3 separate regions of the Homo sapiens genome follow, and all the other regions are reported to be linked to region 1. The links are microRNA targets in miRTarBase. Many come from high-throughput screens and were not tested one by one. Region 1 holds a microRNA gene; each other region holds the end of a gene's coding sequence.
What was found. Region 1 holds the annotated microRNA hsa-miR-6502-5p (AGCUCUAGAAAGAUUGUUGACC, at 1,750-1,771, shown strand). A microRNA usually pairs through its seed, bases 2 to 8, with sites in the 3' UTR of a target mRNA and lowers its output. Matches are read on the target gene's strand: a 7mer-m8 pairs with bases 2 to 8, a 7mer-A1 pairs with bases 2 to 7 and ends in A, and an 8mer does both.

Region 2: miRTarBase lists STRN as a target of hsa-miR-6502-5p. The part of its 3' UTR that is shown has no 7-base or 8-base seed match.
Region 3: the mRNA of SCD5 is a reported target of hsa-miR-6502-5p. Seed matches in the 3' UTR shown: 7mer-A1 at 2,212-2,218.

What each region holds. Positions count from the first base shown.
Region 1 is chr12:66,249,342-66,253,676 of GRCh38, forward strand. MIR6502 (microRNA 6502) reads left to right here and starts at 1,741; the gene lies at 1,741-1,816. It overlaps IRAK3 (interleukin 1 receptor associated kinase 3), which reads left to right. Exons shown (of 12, transcript NM_007199.3): 12 at 1-4,335.
Region 2 is chr2:36,846,099-36,850,098 of GRCh38, reverse strand. It overlaps STRN (striatin), which reads left to right. Exons shown (of 18, transcript NM_003162.4): 17 at 299-385; 18 at 474-4,000. The coding sequence ends at 643. Among named protein-coding and RNA genes, the nearest start is that of STRN, 120 kb to the left of the region's middle.
Region 3 is chr4:82,627,550-82,631,549 of GRCh38, forward strand. It overlaps SCD5 (stearoyl-CoA desaturase 5), which reads right to left. Exons shown (of 5, transcript NM_001037582.3): 5 at 1,990-3,968. The coding sequence ends at 3,778. Among named protein-coding and RNA genes, the nearest start is that of LINC00575, 8.1 kb to the left of the region's middle.

The sequences.
Region 1 (4,335 bases):
TTTTTAGTAGAGACGGGGTTTCACCATGTTAGGCAGGATGGTCTCGATCTCCTGACCTCATGATCCGCCTGCCTGGCCTCCCAAAGTGCTGGGATTACAGGCGTGAGCCACCGCGCCCAGCCTTCATCTCTTTTACTAGGTTGTAAACTCCCTATATTAGTTTTCTATTGTTTTTGTAACACATTATCACAAATTTAGTGACTTAAAGTAACATAAATTAATTATTTTGCAGTTCTGGAGGTCAGAATTCCTTAGCATTCTTTCTGGAGGCTGTTGGGGAGAACTCACTGCCTTGCCTTTTCCAGCTTCTAGAGGCCACCTGCCTTCTTTGGCTCATGGCCTCTTCCTCCGTCTTCAAAGCCAGCAACGTGACATTTCAGATCTCCCTCTCTCTGTCTGTCTCACCGCATCTCTTCACTACCCTCTTCCTCTCATTCTGGCCCTTCTGCATGTCTTTTATAAAGACCTTTGTGATTTCACTGGGCCCACTCATATAAGCCAGGAAAATCTCTGTGTCTCAGATCCTTAATTTAATTACACCTGCAAAGTCCGTTTTCTCGTGTAAAGTAACATATTCACAGGTTTCTGGAATTGGGACGTGGACATCTTCGGGGGACCATTACTCTGTCTGTCATACTCCCTGAGTGTGTAAGGGCCATCTCTTCAGAGCCTAATGTGTCATCCTACACAGAGCAGGTGTTTCCTTATAAATTAAGTTGAATTAAATTACCCCTATGAAGCCACATAATCAATAATTCAGCTATAATAAACATTGCCGAATAAATTAACAAAGGGAGGATAATGACTCCTTATGATGATGGATAGAAACACTGAAGAAAACCATTTTCAGAGGATTTACTGAATTTTCCTCTCCAAGGAGCTTGTAATAGAAGGGTAAACCTCTAGTTTCTTGTCCAGCAGAGGAATAGGCTCATGTCTTTTGTTTTATTTTATTTTTTTGGTGAGTCAGTATGGTTGGGTTAATCATATTCACATTAGATTCCATGTTGAAGAACAACTAATCAAAGAAGAAAATCATCAGGAATCAGGGTGAGATTAACAGACCAAGGTCAGAAACATGGAGTTACAATTTTCCAAAAAAGCACGAAGTGAGATTAAAACCACAGTAAGTCTTAGTCTGACTGACAGGCTTTATACAGGCCCTCGGTAAGCAGTTGGGAGAACCCATGCCCACCACTGCTCTGTACGGTATCTGGCTGCTCAGAGCTCTCTGATTCACAAAAGAGATCATCAAGAATTGACTCTGTGTTAAACTGTTTTTCACTTAGAATATGGACCCCCACCAATACATTCAATGAAGGGTCATTAAGGAAGCTCTGATTAACACCAGGCCCATGCAGTTACTCCGCACATATAATCTGTGGGTATTATGTTGATTTGAACTTGCTTAGCTGACTTAAAGCAGGGTTTCTCAAACTGTAGTATGCATCAGAATGACTTGGAAAGCTGGTTAAAAACGCAGATTGCTGGGTCCACCCAGCTTCTGATGCAATAGGTCTGGGGTTAGAAATTTTGCTTTCTAATGAGTTCCCAGGTGATGCTGATGCCAATGATGTGAAGCCCGCTCTTCACATCCGTGAAAATCGCTGCCTTAAGGTGCTCTTAAATTGTTATAGATTGGTAGATCCTACCTTTCCATCACTGGTATGTTTTTTGAGAAAAGGATCCTTTCTTTTCATTCTGTTATATTCATCCTATTACATAGGATGTTGGTTAGCACAGAGTGGGAGCTCTAGAAAGATTGTTGACCAATCATCTTATTGACTAGACCATCTTTCTAGAGTATAACTATTTTGGACACCTCAAAGATGAAGTCAGATAAGCTGGCAGTGACCTGATTAACGTTGTGGTAAGCAGATGCCACTGTGGCTGGGAAGTACCAAATCTTCTGTTGAGTGATTCAGTCTTCCTGACTAGATTTGCCTTCTAGTGGGTGTATTAATAAGCGTTAGTTGATATGAATTAAATGTTGCAACTTTCTATGGGTAATAAGAGGATACCTTTATAGTTTCATGATGTGGAGACCAAGATACATAAGAAAGCAAGAATGAGTCTCCGGGTGTTCCCTCTGATCAGCAAACATGAATTCATAATTTCATTTACTCTCATTTTTGTAATGCACTCTGAGCAATCCTCCAGGCAGATCCTATTTACTAAGCTTCAGGCTTTTGTCCCATTTTATAATGCCCAAACACATGGAGAAAACATTTTGTTGTTTTTAAAAACAGGTATGGGATTTCTGATATAATCAATTTTATTGACTTCTTGGGAGTTGTAATGATCTGTGACTCACTGCATAATATTGTAGTTTTATAGGGTGGCACATCACCCTGTGTAAAACAACTTTAATGACCTGAGGACTGATGAGTACAGGAAGTGAGGTTTATCATGAGTAGCATTTATTAAGCATCTGCTAGAATCAAAGCACTGCATTAGCTACTAAGGTACAAAGTAAGACACAGTTTAATAAGGAAGACAGGGCATCTACCCAAGTCAACAGTTCAGTGACATCTGTTATTTGAACCACACACCAATGCAACCGAAGTAAATGCTGAAAGGGTGAGAAGAAGGAATAGATTACTATGCATTTTTGAGAGGATGAAGAAGGCTTCTTGGAGAAGGTTTCTGAAAAGAGATACGGAATTAAGAGAAATAGAAAAGAGCACTGACGAAGCACTCAGGATGGCTATTCAAGGAATTGGGGATCCACAGCAGCTGTGCACAACCATCCCTAATGCCAGAAAAATGGGGTAAGGGTGAAGGGAACTGGGTCTAGAGCTTTGCATGTTTTTTTCTGGTTAACCCTTAGAGTCACCCTGAAGGTGTGGATCCCATCTTATAATAAGGTGAGGACACTGAGTCAGGAAACTAACTTGCTAAAATCAAGTCCTCCCAGTCCTCCCATCAGGTCCTTCCAGATCTGGAGGAGCCAGGATTTGAACTCACATTTGTCTGACTTCAAAATCCATGCTTTTTCTTGTGTTCCAAATTGCACAATGGAGTCACTGCCAGTTCAAGCTCCTATGAAAAGGGATGGATGTGAAAAGTCATTTGTTGATTCCACAGATTTTTAGTAGGTACCATGTCTCCTGCCTTTATCACTATCCTACTCCTCTGCTACAACTTCTCTGCTACAGGCACCCACTGCAGTTACTTGATATGAGTTAAATGAATCCATCCATCCAAACTTCCATTCATTGAATAAATACTTAGCAATGGCTTCCTTTGTATCAGGCACTATTCTAGGAGCTGGGGCTACAGTGCAGATGGAAACCAGCAAAGCTCACTGCCCTCATGGAGCTTATATGTAAGTGAATAAATCTCAGGGTGGTTCTCCTGTCATAGGTCCTGGCTCCTCTGCCAGCTCTTCCAAATGGGTTCAGAGAGGTTTTCTCCTTGTCCTGTTGTGTAACTGATAATCCCATGGTGGACCTCACTTTGCTATTCATATGCACTAAGTAGTTTATGGTGTGCTTTGTGGCTGGCAATTGTGACAGATTCTATTCTTCTATTGGTATGTGGTTTCTTTGGGGCATTTGTTTGGATACTGATGGCATCTTCCGGGGGTCTGAGGCACCTACACAAACCTCAGGTCACTATCACGTGATACTGGAGTTGCCTGTTAAATTATATTTCTTCTTCCACAAAACTGCAGGTTCCCTGAGGGAAAGGTCTATGTCCTGCTCATTTTTGGATCCCTAATGGCTGGCACAGTACCTGGTGCATAATATGGTTCAACAAATATTTGTAAAATGAATGAATCAAATAGTCCTTCAAAGCATCTTCAGAATCAAGATTGTCATCTAGATTGCACCCGAAGTTTATCTTTCTAGTATTCAGAATATAATCAATCATTGCTTAAATTATTCCATTTCATCATTCTTGAATAAAAGCTACTAATTTTAAATACTAATATCTGAGATATCTTCGAAAAGAAGATTAGTCGTTGTATGTGTTGCTTATAAATTTTCTCTATGGTGGAAAATATTCCCAAACCATGTCTAAGCAATGAAAAACCAGTGTTCTGGCAGGAAATAAACTGATGTTTGTTGTGTTTTGTATCTGTCTTCCCGTTCCAAATCATTTATATATACTTGATGGTCTGTGGGCTTGACTTGCAAGTATTTTCCTGGGAGACATTTTTATTCAAAAGACCTGTATTGCCTGCCAAACCTTCATTTAAGAGACTCATTATGGATGTCATCTGCATCATTGCAAACTTTTCTGGTCGTCTCTATAAATAGCAAGATAATATTTACAGAGTTTTACATTGGCTCTTGAATTTTAAAATATTCTTATAGACAAACATTAATT
Region 2 (4,000 bases), not on the chromosome of region 1:
ATGTCTAAGTTCTAATTAACAAACGTGGCTTAAGGGTTGCGTGTAGAAATTACTGACTTCCATATCGTGGCTTAAAAGACAAAAGTGTAATCTAAAATTTGAGCTTTTTTTGGTTTTCCATATCATTGCCATGACTAGAGGCAAGAGGGAGACATGTTGTTTTAGGTGATGGAAAAAGCTATTAATACAGTAAGCACACAGAGAGGGATGACTGGAGAAACCAGCAGGACATGGTAGCTGGCAAATATTGAAGATGAGGAAAGGCATTAATAAGGAGTAACAATCTCTTTTTCCAAAGGCAAACTGATCCACTCGATGGTAGCCCACCTAGAAGCTGTTACAAGTTTAGCAGTTGATCCCAATGGCCTTTACTTGATGTCTGGCAGTAAGTACCTCAACTATGGATTATTTATTTGTCCTTACCATTTTCATGTTAATGTAATTTTTCCTTTTAATTTTTTTTTTGGATATAGGTCATGACTGTTCAATACGTTTATGGAATCTAGAAAGTAAGACGTGTATCCAAGAATTCACAGCTCATCGAAAAAAGTTTGAAGAATCGATTCATGATGTAGCTTTCCACCCATCCAAATGCTATATAGCCAGTGCTGGAGCTGACGCACTGGCTAAAGTCTTTGTATGACGCAATGCATCATCTTCACCTTCTAGCTGTTTATAAGTAATCAACTGCACACAAGAGATACAGAAGACGAGGGCAAGAATCATCTCGTCCTGCCCTTTTGTTCTGCTGAAGGAGCACAGAGAACATTTGTTGAAGTATAGTTTTGCAATTCATATACTGTTTTCTAAAACTAAGGTTTGTTCAGGTTGCTGCAAGCTCAGCTGAATCTGTGAGCCTGAGGTCTGTTTCAAATTTCTCCCCAATAGGCGCCTTTATTTCTGAGGTGGTTCTAATTCGCTAGGCAGGCCTGAGCGAATACAAGTTTAGCTTGTCCCTGTTGAGTAAGTAGGGCATGCTACAATGGATAATTTAAAAGCTTGATAGCTGGGACTGAATAGAAGAAAACGGGAAACTTAGACCAAGTTCTCCCCTGAGAAATCTTGTTAAAACACATTAAGTAGTCAAAATAGTAATCTTTATCATATCTGCCATATTAACCCCTTTGTGTATAATGACCAGGCAGTGTTAAACTGAGTTTTTAATTTGACTCTCCTTTCAGCTGTTCACATAAAGCACCTGGCAAAGCATTTTACCTGTTAGGGGGAGAAAAATGCAATAATATGTTAAATATATTATTATTCAGAAATGCTAGACAAATAGTTTGCAAGCAGATTTCTATATTGTATTACAGTTTTGAAAACAGATTTGGTATCATTCTAAAGTTTAGCTATCAAGCACTCACCATTGTGAAGAATAGTTGATCGACTCTGCTTTTACTAACAGATTTAACTTATTCAGGTTTGAAATTCTGTTTATTTTTAAGGGTAAACAGGGCATATCTCTTTAATAATTTCTATTTTAAAATTCACTTTATTCATGTGACATTTATAGTACCAGAGTGATTATTTCATACCAATGAAATCTTACTTTTCAGTGACTGAAAAGATAGAATTTATTTGCTAATAATCATTTATCAACACCCACCTAATCATGCTTCAGATGATCTGTGCTCTTTCTTCTTTGTCACGTTCAAGTTATCTGACATCTACCAAGAACAGTTCATAATTATTAATAGCCCAAAGAGTATGGTTAACTTCACGCAGCTGCTTTTGCAGAAGCACTAATAAAAACAAATATTTTGTACCCTAGAAGTCCTCTATTAATCCCTGTAAGAATCTCCTGGAAACCTGGATGAAAGAGTTTAATGCCAAATATTGGCTAAAAAGTTCTGTCTTTCTCTCTCCCTATTCCTCCCCCATTGTTTAATTGAGATATACATGTTTTAATGGGCAGTGGATCAGTATTGTTTCTGGGGAAATCCACACCTTAAAAGGCCAGGCTTCCCCAGCCCAACTTACCTGTGACCCACCTACATGTGTTCACCTTTTGGGATTCTGAAGACCCTGCTATCTAGACCTAGTCTCCTGTCATAAAGACATTATTTCTATAGTGGTTTATGTCTCTCTTACTCTTTGTCCCAAATGACAGAGACCAATCTAGAAATTGGAAATAAATTATTAACGTCCAACTTTCCACCAAAAAACATATAAATAGGCTCTTAGATTTTAAAAATATTAAATCTATAGATATTTTAACCAATTAAAACAATTTCTACATATTCCATTCCCCACATTTTCCATCGTCATAACAATGATGCTTCTCATGATACGTACATCTACTCCTTGAAAAAGTATTCTGGTGGTGGTGTGGCTAATGATTGACAAATATTTCTGTAAAATTTCTGCCTGTTTGCCTCTAGAATTCTGCATTATACAGGCAAATTTTCTTTAAAGCTAGAGACTTGTGCTAAATTTGCCTGATTTTCATACAGATATGCTGTAGTAATACAGCTACCTTTTCATTTCATCTTTGTGCTTTGGTTAACAAGCAGGCTCAAGAGACTGCTTTGTGTAATTAAATGAATTGACCTAAACATGAGCTGTCAGGTGAATACTTAATATTTCCATGCAGATACAGAATTCCATATTGTGTTCAGTAAATTTCTTTTGGTTCTTCACAGTGAAGAAAGAATGTTTCTAACCTAACATTTGTAGAAGGATACTGGAAAATTCCTTCCAGGAAGGAAGGAAGGAAGATGCCATTACTTGGTGTATTTATGATGGATGACCACAAAGCTATTGTTCTACCAGTTATTAATTACCTTCTAAGATCTTCAGTTACTGCTTTATTAATGTCACTGAAATTCTAAAAACCAGGACATTCTTCCCCCGTTCATTTTATGCTTCATGGTTGAAATTTTTCTGTCAGTGAGTGGAAAATAACCATGAGATACATAGACTGTAGCGCAAATGGAACTGTTGAAAGTTCCTTAGAAAGCCAGTGCTGTGGCATTGGAGACTACGGAGAGAGTCTTCTCTACCAGCACTGCATGATCTCAGCCTAGAAATGAGCCAAAGCTGTCTTCCAACCAGAGTAGCATATACATGTGTCTGACTTTTCCCCTAGCCTGTTGAACATTCAATGAAAATTCACAGAATGAACAAATTCAATGTTTAAACAGCCATTGAAATGCTTTCATAGTGCTTCATTTGTAAATATTTTGTTTGAAATGTATTGGAATAGTATGAAAATTAGCGGGAGGTTTGGATCCCTGCCTTATTTTCATATGCTGTGGATACATCTCTGGGAGCTTGCAGCACCCTTCTCAAAACTCAACTGTCATATGGAGCTCATTTGCTACTCAAACCATAGACAGATTATTTAACAAAAGTGATATAATGACCTTCAGTATTTTTCTATTGAACAAGTTTAACAACTTTTGCCATTAAACAAATACTTAGTTATGCAAAATATTTCGCTTTTATAATCATTTTAGTTATGACTAAAACGGGGGAAATTGAGCTGCATCACTGATGATGAACTTTGTGAGAAATTTTTTTTTTAATCTGACTTTCATTCCTTCAGTATTCTTGCTATAAATTTCTTTTGGAGATAATGATGAAGATTTATTTGAAAATGTCTAAAATGTATGTATATTTTATAAATATATATTATATATATTGTAAGAATATATATAATATATAAACTATATATATATATATATATATATATATATATATATATATATAAACCATAGGTGCATTTTACTGTTTTGTATTTTCATTTTTGGAGGTAGTATACACAGCAGATAATGATGAGTATGATGAGTGTTGTGCTGTTTGCTTTTGCAGTATAATATATAGTTCTAAGTGTTTAAATTACTGTATATACAATATTCATTATAGGCTAGCATGCTTGTTTTAAAGACTGTCATTCTAGTGTATTAAAATCTGAATGTAAGAAAACCTGGCTATTCAAATGTGAATTGAAAAATATTTTATTCTCAGTACTGAACTATTTCCATTGAACATTCAGACT
Region 3 (4,000 bases), not on the chromosome of region 1:
TGGCTTGTGTGTGGGGCATGCTACTCACCCTCAACTGATGTCTCCCAGGGCTCTGCAATGCCCCAGGCACTGGGATGAGGCTTCCAGATTCATCTAATACACATAAATGTTGCTCTTCCTGTCGTGTAGACAAGGACACTGAGGCTCAGAGAGGCTCCGCAGGCTAGTAAATGACAATTTCATATGTCATATTTCAGCCTTAACCTGAGTCCCAGGTAACACAGCCAGTCAGATCAAGAGTTAGAGTTCAAATCCAGGTCTCAGGACTCCAAGTCCAGTGCTATTTCTACTACCCCATTAAGCTGTAGAGCTTTCTGTAATAATTTCTCTCATTAAATTGTTTTTCATGATGGGTTATATTTAATTGCTTTATTGCATTTTAGGAATGCACAAAATATATGCAGATTTTTTAAAACCAAGAACATTCTATCCTTCCAGCCTCAGTCTGTGTTCTCCCATTCAGATTCACTTACTCCCTCCCACTCCCAATTTTTGACCTTCTATGTCCAGAAAGGATGAGTGCTAACTTGAGAGGTGTTTCGAATTTGAAGTCAGGCATATGAGAACACGCCCGACTCATCTCTGTTGCTGTGGTCGAATGTTAGGGCTGAAGGGGACCTTAGAGAAGAGTCCTCTCTTTTCAGAGAAGGAAACTGAATCCAGAAAGGCTGACGTTTCTCAAGGCCACAGAGCTGGCCAGTAGCAGAGTTGGGGACTCGAGGTGAACTTGAGTTGGCTCCACTGTCCCAGGCTGGCTCCATGACTCTGCCATGACGCCTGTGGGACACATGCTATTGGAATTGCTTTCCCTGGGCTCCCTTCACCTAGATGCAGGGGTGGGTGCTTCTGAAATAAGCCTTGTGAGGATGAGGAGATTAAAGACTGGACATGGGGGGACCATTTTTTTATCTTAAACTGAAACTTTCAAACAATGTATCAGTCTAAGGCCACCTTGGATAGGTTTGGGAAATAACTCCCAGAGCTACTTTCTGTTAAGATGCTGCTGAGACCTGAAAGGAATGTTAACAGGGAAGACACTAGTGCAATCTAACCTTTGTCCAACTCTTCCTCCAAATCATTCCAATCCGAGGTCATTCATGGCTCTGCTGCAGAAAAAAAGATGGCACTCAGGTTCAGAGGAAGGAGATTCTAGATTTATTTGGTCTAGCTGGGAAATACCCTCCTTTTGTAAAAAGATTCCAAATAGCTGTTCCAAATGTCATCTTTTTGACTAATGGACAAGTAAGTAAGTTTAGTACTTTTAGGAGTCAAAGGTTCACATATACATTCCCAATTAAGGGCCATTTCACATCATGCTGATACAAACTTATCTTGGAATGTGACTACCCTCCACCTGCGCTCTATACAAGGTCTTAGCAATGTGTGACTGGGATATGAAGCAGCTGAAAAATGCTACGGTCACATCCAAAGGGTCCTTACATGATGTGATCTAGCCTGGTACCCATCAATGGCTAGAATCCCACTCAACTGCAGACACGTTAAGAAGCTTCTACCTGACAGTACAGCCACAGCTGCTTTGGGGCAAAAGATGGGTGGAGACTTTGGTGGTGCAGAGGTGAGGTTGAGAGAGGCAGGACTAGAGTGAAAACAGGAGTCCATCTCCCCCACCTCTGGTAACTATTGGTGGGGCCTGGAGAGGGGAAGGTGTCCTTCATGCTCCTTTGGGTGACATATAGGAGTAGATTCCCAATTATCATCTATAAGCACTCCCAGTGGCTGCTGGTGAGTGAGAATCAGGGAACAATACCACTGGGAGTTCTACATTCCAAATAAAACTTGCTGGCTTCCTCTGGCTGTTGCCTAAGGCCGATAGGATAGGACAGGCCTGGTCTCAGGGGCTGGTCTCAGGGGCTGTTGTTAGCCCAGAGCCCAAATCCCAATGTGAGTCATACAATCATCATGAGGCACCAAGCACTCTGGAAAGAACATTCTCTAAACAGCACTGAAGTATCTGGACAAGAACACCAATGAATTCATAATCATTTATTGTAAATCACTCACAGTTTACACATTACCAGTGGCAAAATAACACTGTTAAACACCTACTGGATGAAGAACTTCATTGTGACTATTTCCAATTGCCATCATATCTTTTTCTAAAATTTAAAATTTAACTTTTAAATCCTACATCTTTTCTGAAAATATCTATCTTCAAAGTGCTCCAATACTAACACTATAAGCCCTTTCTTTTGCTCTAACATCTAACACAAAGGGCACACTGTCCCATTAATTCCACATGCACTTTACAAAGCAACTTCACACACAAATTTTTTTAATCCAGAAGCTACATAATGATCACTTTATATTTTGCTACAAAATTAATGAAGGCTGCATGCAGGTGAAACATTAGTAGACACGGAATTCTAGATAACTGTTGGTTCTCAAGATCTGATGGTCTGATGTGGAAAATTAATATGCTTATTTAGCAGAAGTAGCTAAAGTACATGCATCAGTGGCTGGGATCAATTAGAATATAAATTAGGTGCTTAAACATTTAAACGAGAGCTTAATTTGAGCTTAATTTGATGTCTGGCATGTCAGAGTTATACACCTTTAAGATAACAATAGCAAACAGAACAAAATCAAACATCTAAACAGGCATGATTTATAAGGTGGGCTGGCCATAGGGCTCAGGACACAAAACGAGCTGGGCAGTGAACAAATCTCTCTTGAAACAAAGACAGTAGAGCATTAACAAGCTGTAAACACAGCAAAAAAATAAACAAGAGCCATTTCCTGTATTCTCATTTTTTTCAGTTTTTGATTCTCTTAAGCAAACAATAAAACCACACACACACAATAATTAACAAAACAGAAACATTCTTTAGTTACCACATAGATCCCCCTTCTGTCTTCTACCCTGCCTCTCTGCTCCTTCAGATGGTTGTTTAAAAGCAATGATGGGTTAATTGGTAGAAAAGAAAACAAATGCTCTCCTGAACTACACTGAAAGAATATTACTTTCCTTCATCCTGTCAGGGTTAGCATCATGTTCAAGCACATGACAACGTATATTTGACGTATTTTAGCTATAGCGATTAAATCACATGTCCACACTCTAATGTTAAATCGTAGTAATATTGACTTGAAAAGTTTTTTAGGCTGGGCGCGCTGGCTCCCAGCTACTCGGGAGGCTGAGGCAGGAGAATGGCGTGAACCCGGGAGGCGGAGCTTGCAGTGAGCTGAGATCTCGCCACTGCACTCCAGCCTGGGGGACAGAGCGAGCCTCCGTCTCAAAAAAAAAAAAGTTTTTTTCGGCAGGGTGCGGTGGCTCACGCCTGTAATCCCAGCTCTTTGGGAGGCCGAGGCGGGTGGATTGCCTGAGGTCAGGAATTCGAGGCCAGTCTGGCCAACATGATGAAACCCTGTCTCTACTAAAAATACAAAAAAATTAGCTGGGTGTGGTGGCAGGCTCCTGTAATCTCAGCTACTCAGGAGGCTGAGGCAGGAGAATTGCTTGAACCAGGTAGGTGGAGGCTGCAGTGAGCCGAGACTGCGCCACTGCACTCCAGCCTGGGTGACAGAGTGAGACTCTGTCTCAAAAACAAAACAAACAAAAAAAAAAACGAAAGTTTTTTCATTGATAATTGTATTTCAACATTATTTTGAGATAAACAAAAACATTCCCAAACCACATTGACTCGTTCCTTCCCCACCCTCTGCCCCCTCCCACGATCCAATGTACAAGAGAGCTATTGTAACCAAAGCCATGAACCGAGGTTGCAACGGCAGACATGTGGGATGGCTGTTCCAAGTTCAAGCACTGCTGTCTCCAGTCCTGGCCTTCCGGGCCTCGATCATCGGCTTGGTTGCCCGTTTGCGGTCAGTGGCCAGCCCCAGCCAGCACATGAAATCAATGAACCAGGTGGTTGGGTTAAAATTTAAGCCAAATTCACTCGCAGAGTAGTCAAAGGGAAAGGTGTGATGGTAATTATGGAAGCCTTCACCTGGAAGACAAAGCGGGCATTGATATAATTCA